Homo sapiens: one gene and its partners. The protein of the gene in region 2 interacts with the protein of the main gene of each other region in a pairwise test. Each region holds a gene or a part of one and is shown on either strand. Other genes may lie near its edges.

The links.
Region 1: the proteins of AKAP7 (region 2) and CEP76 interact in a two-hybrid assay, tested with the Homo sapiens proteins (3 studies listed by BioGRID).
Region 3: the proteins of AKAP7 (region 2) and SPA17 interact in a two-hybrid assay, tested with the Homo sapiens proteins (3 studies listed by BioGRID and IntAct).

What each region holds. Positions count from the first base shown.
Region 1 is NC_000018.10:12,681,978-12,685,728, reverse strand, and holds part of CEP76 (centrosomal protein of 76 kDa), read left to right. Parts: intron 1-3,751. UniProt on the Homo sapiens protein: Centrosomal protein involved in regulation of centriole duplication. Required to limit centriole duplication to once per cell cycle by preventing centriole reduplication.
Region 2 is NC_000006.12:131,278,442-131,282,192, forward strand, and holds part of AKAP7 (A-kinase anchoring protein 7), read left to right. Parts: intron 1-3,088; coding exon 3,089-3,285; 3' UTR 3,286-3,751. UniProt on the Homo sapiens protein: Probably targets cAMP-dependent protein kinase (PKA) to the cellular membrane or cytoskeletal structures.
Region 3 is NC_000011.10:124,672,295-124,676,045, forward strand, and holds the start of SPA17 (sperm surface protein Sp17), read left to right. Parts: upstream 1-1,609; 5' UTR 1,610-1,658; exon of another isoform or gene 1,659-1,808; intron 1,809-1,899; exon of another isoform or gene 1,900-2,199; intron 2,200-2,943; 5' UTR 2,944-2,970; coding exon 2,971-3,124; intron 3,125-3,130; exon of another isoform or gene 3,131-3,268; intron 3,269-3,276; exon of another isoform or gene 3,277-3,751. Other genes in the region: SIAE (sialate O-acetylesterase isoform 1 precursor), read right to left, coding at 1,348-1,414. UniProt on the Homo sapiens protein: Sperm surface zona pellucida binding protein. Helps to bind spermatozoa to the zona pellucida with high affinity. Might function in binding zona pellucida and carbohydrates.

The DNA of each region.
Region 1 (3,751 bases), on a different chromosome or scaffold from region 2:
ACCCTGGAGGCGGAGGTTGCAGTGAGCTGAGATCGCACCATTGCACTCTAGCCTGAGGACAGAGCAAGACACGTCTCAAAAAAAAAAAAAATACTATTTTATATAAGCCTTGAGTATCCACGGATTTTGTTTTGCAAGGGTCCTGGAACTAACCGCTTTGGGGTGCTATCAGCTTGACCACGTCAGAACCTTGTTCTGTTTTTCATAACATTTAAATATCAATACACAAAAAACTCAGCATCTTTATTTTCTCATGTAGTTTCTTATTTATTGTGATTTCTGTGATGTAGGGACCTACAAGTACTAAAATGTCAGAAATCAAGTTGCAGAATGAATTAGGAACAGCACCAGGACCAGACCATGGCTTTCTGGTACTACTGATGTGTTGCAATTTGCTCAGATAATACATCTTTAAAAAAGAGAAAATAAGGCTGGGCGTGGTGGCTCATGCCTGTAATCCCAGCACTTTGGGAGGCAGAGGTGGGTGGATCACCTGAGGTCAGGAGTTCAAGACCAGTCTGACCAACGTGGAGAAACTCCGTCTCCACTAAAAGTACAAAATTAGCGTGGTGTGGTGGCACGTGCCTGTAATCTTAGCTACTGAGGAGGCTGAGGCAGGAGAATTGCTTGAACCTGGGAGGCGGAGGTTGTGGTGAGCTGAGATCGCGCCATTGCACTCCAGCCTGGGCAACGAGCGAAACTCCATAAAAAAAAAAGAGAAAATGGCAGTACAAAATTAATATAGAAAAAATATTAAAATAGAAAAAAATCTTGAATTGCATGCTATTTAGTTTGTTTAGTTTGTATTTAAATACAAATGTATATTTAATTACACTTTTTGAATGACTTGATTTTAGTAAACTAATTTTATAGATTATGGGATATTTCCTAATCTGTGTTCTAAAAATGTTGATAGTATGATAACAAACAAGTAAAACTATCTTTAGGCCAGGCGCGGTGGCTCACGCCTGTAATCCCAGCACTTTGGGAGGCCGGGGAGGGTGGATCACCTGTGGTCGGGAGTTCTAGAACAGCCTGGCTAACATGGAGAAACTCCATCTCTACTGAAAAAATACAAAAATTAGCCAGCCATGGTGGCGGGCTCCTGTAATCCCAGCTACTTGGGAGGCTGAGGCAGGAGAATCACTTGAACCTGGGAGGTGGAGGTTGCAGTGAGCCGAGATCACGCCATCGCACTCCAGTGTGGGCAATAAGAGCAAAACTCCATCTCAAAAAAAAAAAACAAAAAACTATCTTTAGCCTGGGTGACAGAGCGAGACTCTGTCTCAAAAAAAATAAATAAAGGTGACAGCAGGCCAGGCATGGTGGCTCATGCCCGCAATTCCAGCACTTGGGTAGGCCAAGGTGGGCAAATCACTTGAGCCCAGAAGTTCCAGACAAACCTGGGCAACATGGCAAAATCCCTCTCTCTAAAAAACTATAAAAATTACCCAGGCATGGGCCAGGTGTGGTGGCTCACGCCTGCAATCCCAGCACTTTGGGAGGCTGAGGCGGGCGGATCACACGGTCAGGAGATCGAGATCATCCTTGCTGATACGGTGAAACCCCATCTCTACTAAAAACACAAAAAAAGGAGAATCACTTGAACCCATGAGGTGGAGGTTGCAGTGAGCTGAGATCGCGCCACTGCACTCCAAACTGGACGACAGAGCAAGACTCTGTCTCAAAAAAAAATACATATATATATGATATCATATATATGATATATATCATATATATATTTAGATTTTTTACTGTACAAACAACAGCATTACAACAGTAATGGTGAAACTTTACCTATAATTCTATTCCTAGTTTATTATTTCTTTTTATATTTTTTCTGCTGTATATGTATCATTTATTTCATAATTATAATTGTAAATAAATTTTTGTATCTTGCTTTATAATTAAGCATTATGCTATGAACATTTTTCTATGTGTTGCTACAGTCTTTCTGATTTCCTTTTTTTTTTAAATGAGACAGAGTTTTCCTCTTGTCGCCCAGGCTGGAGTGCAATGGCATGATCTCGGCCCACTGCAACCTCCGTCTCCTGGGTTCAAGCGATTCTCCTGCCTCAGCCTCCCTAGTAGCTGGGATTACAGGTGCCCGCCACCACCCCCAGCTCATTTTTGTATTTTTAGTAGAGATGGGGTTTCACTGTGTTGGCTAGGCTGGTCTCGAACTCCTGACGTTAGGTGATCTGCCCGCCTCTGCCTCCTAAAGTGCTGATTTCCGTTTTTTAATGAGTGTTTTAAGTTTCCTTGAGTCAATATACAAAATACATTTAACTATTTCCCTATTGTAGGAACTGCCAAGTTAGGCTCTTTTTTTTTTATTCAGTGGTTTTGTTGTTGTTGTTTTCTTTTGTTTTTGTTTAGGACGGGGTCTCGCTCTGTCGCCCAGGCTGGAGTGCAGTGTCACGATCTCGACTCACTGCAACCTCCGCCTCCCAGCCTCAAGCAATTCTCCTACCTCAGCCTCCTGAGTAGCTGGGACTACAGGCATGGAGCCACCATGCCTGGCTTTTTTTTTTTTTTTTTTGGTATTTTTAGTAGAGATGGGGTTTCTTGGCCAGGGTGGTCTCAAACTCCTGGCCTCAAGTGATCTGCCCGCTTCAGCCTCCCAAAGTGCTGAGATTACAGGCAAAAGCTGGCACACCTGGCCATAAAGTTAAGCTCATTTTAAATTTTTTAATGTTGCCATGAATGAACTTTCACACTGACTATCTTTGCAGATATTTTTATTTTACTTCTGAATTTTCTTTAGGACAAAATCTCAGAAATAATTGGGTCTAAAAGGTTGATTAAGCCAGGCGCAGTGGCTCATGCCTGTAATCGCAGCACTTTGGGAGGCCGAGGTGGGTGGATCACTTGAGGTCAGGAGTTCAAGACCAACCTGGCCAACATGATGAAACTCTCTCTCTACTAAAAATACAAAAATTAGCTGGGTGTGGTGGTGCACGCCTGTAGTCCTAGCTACTCAGGAGGCTGAGAATCATTGGAACCCGGGAGGAGGAGGTTGTAGTGAGCCGAGGTCATGCCACTGCATTCCAGCCTGGGTGACAGAGCGAGACTCTGTCTCAAAAAAGAAAAAAGTAAATTAAAAAATAAAAGATTGGTTATTACATTTTTGTAAAGCCACTTGAAGAACTATAAAATGCTATTTGTTTTCTTACAGTTAATTTTTTTTAAAAAACTTTAGCACCACCAAATCCAATTTTTTGGAGAAAGAAATTTCTTGGCCAGGTAAGGTGGCTCATGCCTGTAGTCCCAGCACTTTGGGAGGCTGAGGCAAGCGGATTGCTTGAGTCCAGGAATTCGAGACCAGCCAGGGCAACTTGGTGAAACCTTGTCTCTACAAAAACACAAAAAATAGCTGGGCCTGGTGATGAGTGCCTGTGGTCCCAGCTATTCAGGAGGCTGAGGCGGGGGAATCACTTGAGCTGGGGACATCAAGGCTGCAGTGAGCTGAGGACGTCAAGGCAGCATTGAGCTGAGATCATGCCACTGCACTCCAGCCTGGGTGTCAGAACTAGACCCTATCTCAAAAGAGAGGAAAAAAAAAAGAAATTTCTTCATTCGGACACTCAACTCAAATAGTTATTTTTGCTTTCGCGTGTAGTCTTCCTACACTTAAATACGAAATTGTAACCATAGTGTTTAATATCTTGGTAATTTTTTTCACAGAACACAGTATCAGATATTTTCTTTTCTTTTTTTCTTTTTTTTTTTAGAGACAGAGTCTCACTCT
Region 2 (3,751 bases):
CTCATCAGTTCCAGCTAGTATAGGGTATTAGTCCGTTCTTGCATTGCTGTAAAGAAATACCTGAAACTGGGTAATTTATAAAGAAAAGAGGTTTAGTTGGCTCATGGTTCCACAGGCTGTACAGGAAGCATGGCTGGGGAAGCCTCAGGAAACTTACAATCATGGCAGAAGGTGAAGGGGAAGCAGGCATATCTTACACGGCCAGAGCAGGAGGAAGGGAGAAAATGGGGGAGGTGCTACACATTTTCAAACAACCAGATCTCATGAGAACTCACTCACTATCATGAGAACAGCAAGTGGGAAACACACCTCCATGATCCAGTTACCTCCCACCAGGTCCTTCCTCCAGCATTGGGGATTACAGTTCCGCAGGAGATTTGGGTGGGGACACAAATCCACACTACATTAGCTAATCAGGAAAGGTTTCATGGAGTAGATGGTATTCTAATTGCTGAAAGAGAGGGAGGGTCGTCTAGAAATTGGGAATGGTGTGGAAGCCTCTGAGGAGATGTTGGAAGCTGACAGTGGAGGTGTGCAGTGGTGGGCAGGCAGCCAGGAAAGGCAAATTTTGGAAAGCCTTGGCAGACAGACGTTTCTCTGTAGAGTAAATAGTGACAGAGATGTATTAGAAATAATAACTAAAGGTTTTATACCTGGCACATTGAAGACGGGAGAAATCATGAAGCACAATTGACAAAGCTTGGTAATTAAGGGGGTTAATGAGGGAAAGGAAGGCATCAAAGATGGCTACAATCTCGTTTTGAGCTTGACTGCCTCGAATAATAGTAACAGCATAAACAAAAATAGGACATCAGCAGGGAAAATTCACTTTTTTTTTCTTCTTTTTTGAGACAGTCTCACTCTGTCACCAGGCCGGAGTGCAGTTGCACGATCTCGGCTCACTGCAACCTCTGCCTCCTGAGTTCAAGTGATTCTCCTGCCTCAGCCCCCTGAGTAGCTGGGGCTACAGGTGCATGCCACCACGCCCAGCTAATTTTTGTATTTTTAGTAGAGACAGAGTTTCACCATGTTGGCCAGGATGGTCTCGATCTCTTGACCTCGTGATCCACCTGCCTCAGCCTCCCAAAGTGTTGGGATTACAGGCGTGAGCCACCGCGCCTGGCCAAAATTAGCTTTTTGTAGGAAGATTCTTGTGTTTAAGATAACAGGGACACTTCACTGTGGACTAGTAGAAATCACAGAAGCATGGAACATTAGACCCAAAAGGGATTTGGAGGTTGAGCCATTCATTGGACTCAAATTCAACCCTGTCATCTTGCTGATGAGAAAGCTGACTAGATTCAGGAACAGCCCCCAGGGTGCAATGTCTGGCCTTGATACAGAGCACAAGTAGGATGGCAGATGTAGACAGTCATTTACAGTGTTTTGGAGGGTACTTAAAAAGTATTCCTTCATTTGCAGTTGGATTTTTCCCTTTTAAATGGGAAGAGTCATTATACAAACAGTTCCAGTTAATGCATTTGGAGATGTTGTCTGTAGAGTATAAACACCGTGTTGTAAGGTTGAGATAAAATCCCTAAATATTAGGCAATATATTCATTCATTCCTACTGATAAACAAAAAGTCTTAACTTGCCACCCAACATGACATTACCAATGAATTTACTTTCATAGTAAATACATTACCAATGAATTTCTTTAACCGTATTATTTAGTAAGTTCTATTTAGTTATTACTGAGTTGACATTTACTCAATTCTAAACATATTTTGCACTGCAGATGTTCTATCTTGGACATCTGATCATGGGTCTGGGGTGCCATATTGCCCATATTTGAGGAGAAGGCAGTTGCTAAGGGTTCCCACTATTAGTGTTTCTAGATGGGTCTTATCCTACCCTCTCTTCTGCTTAGGGTGTTGCTAGGAATGATGGGGATGGTTATAAGCACAATTAGTCTTGATGGGTGTTACATACAAGTAGGGGGCTCTGAAGCAAGGTTGGGGGCCAGTTCTCACCCTTGGCATACCTGCTTCTGTTCTTCAATCCCTATTACATGTGAGTACAGGAAACAGTGTCCATCTTCCAGCTCACACCCTTTGTATCTGCCTGTCTCAGACCCAGAGATGCAAGTGCAACACTCACTGGCTTTGCCTTCTAGAACCCATGGGTAATCTTGCAAAACTGAGCTGATCTTAATGTGCGAGCATCCTGTGACTTCTTTGCTTCCAACCTTGTTCTTTCCTGGGTCCCCAGCTCGATGGGAGGAGATTGAGCACTGAATGGTCACTCTCTTCTTTGTCTCCCTTAACTGGGGAAGGAGCCCCTTAGTTCCTTTTCCCAGTTAAAGGAGTCTGAAAGAGAGTGACTGGGAAATGTGTAGCATGAGAATAGTTGGGAACCAGCTCTTTTAGAATAAAATGAAAGATGGAATAATTAGACCTGGATTATCACTCCCAGGGAAGTAAAATGACCATAAAATATTTACATCTAGTAATTTATCATCATAATCCTAATTTTTCTTTAAAGAATTTCCTATTTCTTAAATTGCAGTGATAGCACTGGGATTAAAAAAAATATTAGTCTTACAAGCTTACTTTAAACCAATTCCTAGTGGTAGTAACTGCCTTTATCTTCAAGGCAGCACTGAGCATTTATTAACAACCAACCTATAGGCCAAGCATTTTTAAATTAGTGATCTTAAGTAATGAGATGCTAGGGAAATCTTGATGACCTGATATTTGATATTCGAGAATGAGAAGCAGACATAGGCCTACTTAGTGAATTCACATGTCTGAGACTCCACGTGGTGGGGACATGGACGTTAGTAGTAGTAATTAGCCTTGGATGAGAGAAGAACAGAAATTCACATATAAATGGGAAACATCCGGCATTGGTAGGTAGAGCTTGTCTAGATTGGGACTAATGAACTACTTTTCAATCTGAAGCCTTCAGGAATAGACAGGCTCCTGCTTCTGCAAATACCAAATGAAAAGCCAACCCACTGTTCTTGAATTTATAGATCCAATTTACACTTGCTCTTTTTAACCAATGGAACTAGCCGGCCCCTGCATGCCAAGTTTCTATGGCAATGTGATCTCAGTGACCTCTCTTCTCTATTGTGGAATGTAGGTGAAAAGAACGGAGGGGAGCCCGATGACGCTGAACTAGTAAGGCTCAGTAAGAGGCTGGTGGAGAACGCGGTGCTCAAGGCTGTCCAGCAGTATCTGGAGGAAACACAGAATAAAAACAAGCCGGGGGAGGGGAGCTCTGTGAAAACCGAAGCAGCTGATCAGAATGGCAATGACAATGAGAACAACAGGAAATGAGCCCGGAACGCAGGCCCCCATGTCTCTGTGCAAAGCCTCCCTGCTTCCCTCTGCTGAGTCTAGGGACTGACTTGCAGCGTGCTGTTTAAGTTAAGTTTCTCTGGTGCAATCTGTGAAGATTGCCTAATACTTTTCATGATCGATGTGTTCGCATTGCTGAAACACAACAGAAGAAAAATGGAGTGCTGGGACTGGCAGAGGAAATTAATTGATGAAAGAAGAATGGCCCAAGTTTCATTCGCCCTCAGCCACGCACAAGGGAAAGGGAACTTTGGGTTATGCCTCCTGGACGCAAATTAAAGGCCGAGAAAGAGGCCTTGCCATCAATGGAATACTGCCATTTATATTGCTTAGCAGGGCATTTGACTACTTTATCTGAGGCCAGAACTCTCACACACAGCTATCAAGTGCTAAGTTTAAAATAATCACTGTTGGAATTGTCATCTGTACAATTAGTCCATAATGT
Region 3 (3,751 bases), on a different chromosome or scaffold from region 2:
TGCCTCTGGTGAGGAGCTCCGGATGCATTGGCGAGGAGCACAATGGCAGGCTCAATAGACTGGCAATGTTCTAGTTCTTAAGTTGGGTACTGCTCTCATGGGTGTTCATTTTATTGTGTCATTGTTACATATAATTTTGTACATCTCAAGCATTACATGGTAAACATGGGCACAGGGAGAATGACTTAAAGGAAAAACGTCAGGATACGCAACCAAGTAGAGTACTAATGAATGAAAAATGTGATCAATGTTAATGAAGGTGATGTAACAATAAGACCCAAAGGAGGAGATAAAATACTGACACTAAAATAAACAGCCTTTAACTGAAAACCTAATAAAATATCTTTTCCCCACCTCATAAGATGGATCTCAAAGGTCACTGAGTGGAGATAAGAGTCAGGAAATGGCATACAGAGTGCTAGCATTTTGCACTTTTGTTAGACTCTGAACAATCATTTATGGGCTGCAGTTTGTCTGAATCTAGGTACTTTTCCGGCTCTCAGGTAGAGCAGGAGTCATTTTTCTGCACGCTGTTCTCCTACCCCAACTATCATTTCTTAACAGGGATCTCTGGGGTCCACTCTTTGAGTGTTTTGAAACAGAAAGGAAGAAATCCAACATTATCACTTTAGTTTGCATTATCAGACAGATTGCACCTTCTGCTTTCTCCATACTGTGACCCAGTGTCCAGCCTAGGGTATTCGAATGGCAAGATCTGACCTGCGCAACAGCCAAAGGGAGCCACCAGCCTCCCCTATGCCACTCACATTTTCCCACCACCAATATCTGTAAGCGGTACCAGAAATCAAAACTGAGCCTTAAATAGTCAGAGCTAGTGAGGGGGTTGTATTTCTTAGCCCTGATAACCACTTAAACGAGTAAAATTTAATTCCCCTAAGGAACCCCGCCTGAAGCAAACCCTCCCCAAGGGCACCACTGAGGGGGTAGCGCTGAAATGTTTTGGAAGATTCAGTCACCTGTTTCCAAATATTACCTAACTAGCTTCGCCTCCTTCCCTCCGAGCTCCCCTGCAGTTACTCCAGGACCCCGAAGGCCTCTTTCTGGGCACATTTGGGCCTCCCCACTCAGACAAGCCGCACTTTCTCCCTGCTCACAGGCTGCATGTCAGGGATGGTAAGTGGGGGGTGGAGAAAGTGGAGAGGCCGGGGTTCAACCCAGCAGACTCCTGCAGACCGGGCCTCGGTCGGAGACGCGAGCCCCTAGCCTAGCTAGGTTCCTTCGTCGACCTTGAGAAAGGGGCGCGGATCCGTGTCCCGCAGAGGACACGGGGTCTCGGAGCCCGCACAGGCTGAGGGGCAGGGGTCCGGCCGAGCCGGGCCGCCTCACCTGCACTTCTGTCGGCCCACAGGATTAATGGCAGCACCAGCCCGAGTACAAGCCCCGGCGCGACCATGCTTGCAAGGATCTGACCGCCGCCTAGGACTGGGAAAGTGGGTTCCCGGCAGGGGCGGGGCCTGGGCGGGGGCGAGGCCGACTCCACCCTTTTGCAGTCCTCGCAGCCTCCCGCGACCTCAGGACTGGGCTGTACTCGCCCCTTCTCGGCCGCCGTAGTTTTTTTTTTTTTTTAAAGAAAAAACGGTTACCCAGCAACTAGAAAAACAACCGGAACCGGCGGCACCAGCTCGGAGAGAAAGGAGGTGAGGCCGCTTCCCCACTTCCTCTCCGATACCAAGACCTAGCCTTTTCCCTTCGTCTCTCTTATTCTCTCAGCATCCCAGACACAGCCTCGGAGCCCTGGGCCGTTTGGGAGCCGAGGCAGCCCATTCTGCGCGAGTCTGAAATCCCAGGTCCTCAACATCCCGCCCCCGACTAGACCCGTCTGCCCCCTCCGCCCGCCCTCCTCTGCCCACATTGGTTCAGAATCTCGCCAGCTCTTTTCACCACTCTAGAATGGTTCGATACCCCCATCTACTGCTCCCTCAGAAAAAGCAAAAGAGAGGAGTCAGGCGTGGTGGCGCGCGCCTGTAATCCCAATTGCTCGGGAGGCTGAGGCGGGATCATCGCTGGAGCCCAGGAGTTCGAGGCCAGAGACCCCCTCTCAAAGAAAAAAAAAGCGATGAAACGAGAACCCTCCATAGTCTGAGCCTCATTAAACCGTCCAGTTCTCCCAACCTGGACCCCTACCACGGCCTCCGCCTCTATTCCGCATTGACGCACACTCTCACATTAACAGGCCAGGTCCCGGAGGATTCTTTTCATACTCAGTAGTAGCTCAGCCCGCTGCTTAGCAGCTACCCTTAATCTAGCCCTTGTATTTCAAGACAGAAAGAGACAACCTGATCAAGAAGAAACCGAAAAATATAAGAATTCTAAAACTTTAGAGGCTGGGATTTCAAAATCATGACACACAGCCCCATCCCATCCCATCCCTCCCTCACACACACGCACGCACAACCCCATTCCACAGTACGAAGGTGTTCGAAGCATTGTGGGTCATGCTTCAGAAGTGGCAGCAAGGGGAAAGATTGTGCAACTTCTTCATTCAACAAATTAATTTCTAGAACCAGGACTAATTTCTACTCTTTAAAAAAAAATAGACCTCAAAGAAGGTCTTCTCAGCAATTGACAATGAATTTAACTTTTTAGCAATCATTCTCTCTAAATTCCTGTGTGATAGCAAAAATTACCCTTACCTTTTGAGCATATAAAGGGTAAAGAGAGAAAAAGTCATATTGAAAATTATGGGTTTTTTGCAGGATTTTAAATGATTTGGCCTAGTGAATGGGTCTGTGTTTGTATTATACTAATTCACAATGGAGATTTCAAAACTCTTTGGAAGAAATGGATGGGCTTGGGTTGTGTTAGGGAAAAAAGAATTCAAGTCCAGATGTATGAGTCTCAGAAATAATTTGTTGGCATAGTTGTGATTATATAAGTAAAATCAGACAAATTTAAAGACAGTACTCTTTAATGAATCTTTAGGTTCCATAGGCAGTTCTTACCAAGAAGATGTCGATTCCATTCTCCAACACCCACTACCGAATTCCACAAGGATTTGGGAATCTTCTTGAAGGGCTGACACGCGAGATTCTGAGAGAGCAACCGGACAATATACCAGCTTTTGCAGCAGCCTATTTTGAGAGCCTTCTAGAGAAAAGAGAGAGTAAGCTTTCTAAAATTAGTCATTTTTTAAAATAAGAAACTAAGCATTTGTTTATGGTAAAACTTGCTTAAGACCATCTCCATTCTGCAGAAAGCCTTTTATGAGGCAGGGAGTTTCAGATAACAGTTCTTGCTCTTTGAAACAGTATGTACCTCTTTGATATGTTCTCTTAAATTCGTTTCATATTATCGAAGATTACCAGTTCATTATTCAGACCGTCTTCATTGTATTTCTCACGGACATACAGCGTGGAAGGTAACTGCAAAAGAGCATACATTTCTCGGGAGAAATCAGTGGGGGAAAAAAAGATCATACAGTCTACCCTCGCCACGTTCCAGCATACTGTTCCTATGCATCCCTGGCAGCTGACTGTTATTCCTGAGATGAGTATCTGTGGTTTCCTTTCAATTTTGATTCCTTCCATTTGAAAGTATTTTAAGTACTGCAAAAAGAATTCTGCACTCTTTAAATAAACTGATATTCACTGGGGTATATGAAACTGTTCTGCAATAACGGCACAGACAAACTGATTTGAAAGGTGGAATACCAGTTTGGAAAGGTAATTTATATTCTTTATGCTAAATTCCATCCTGCACAGAGACCCAGATGCCCACTAACAATAACTAT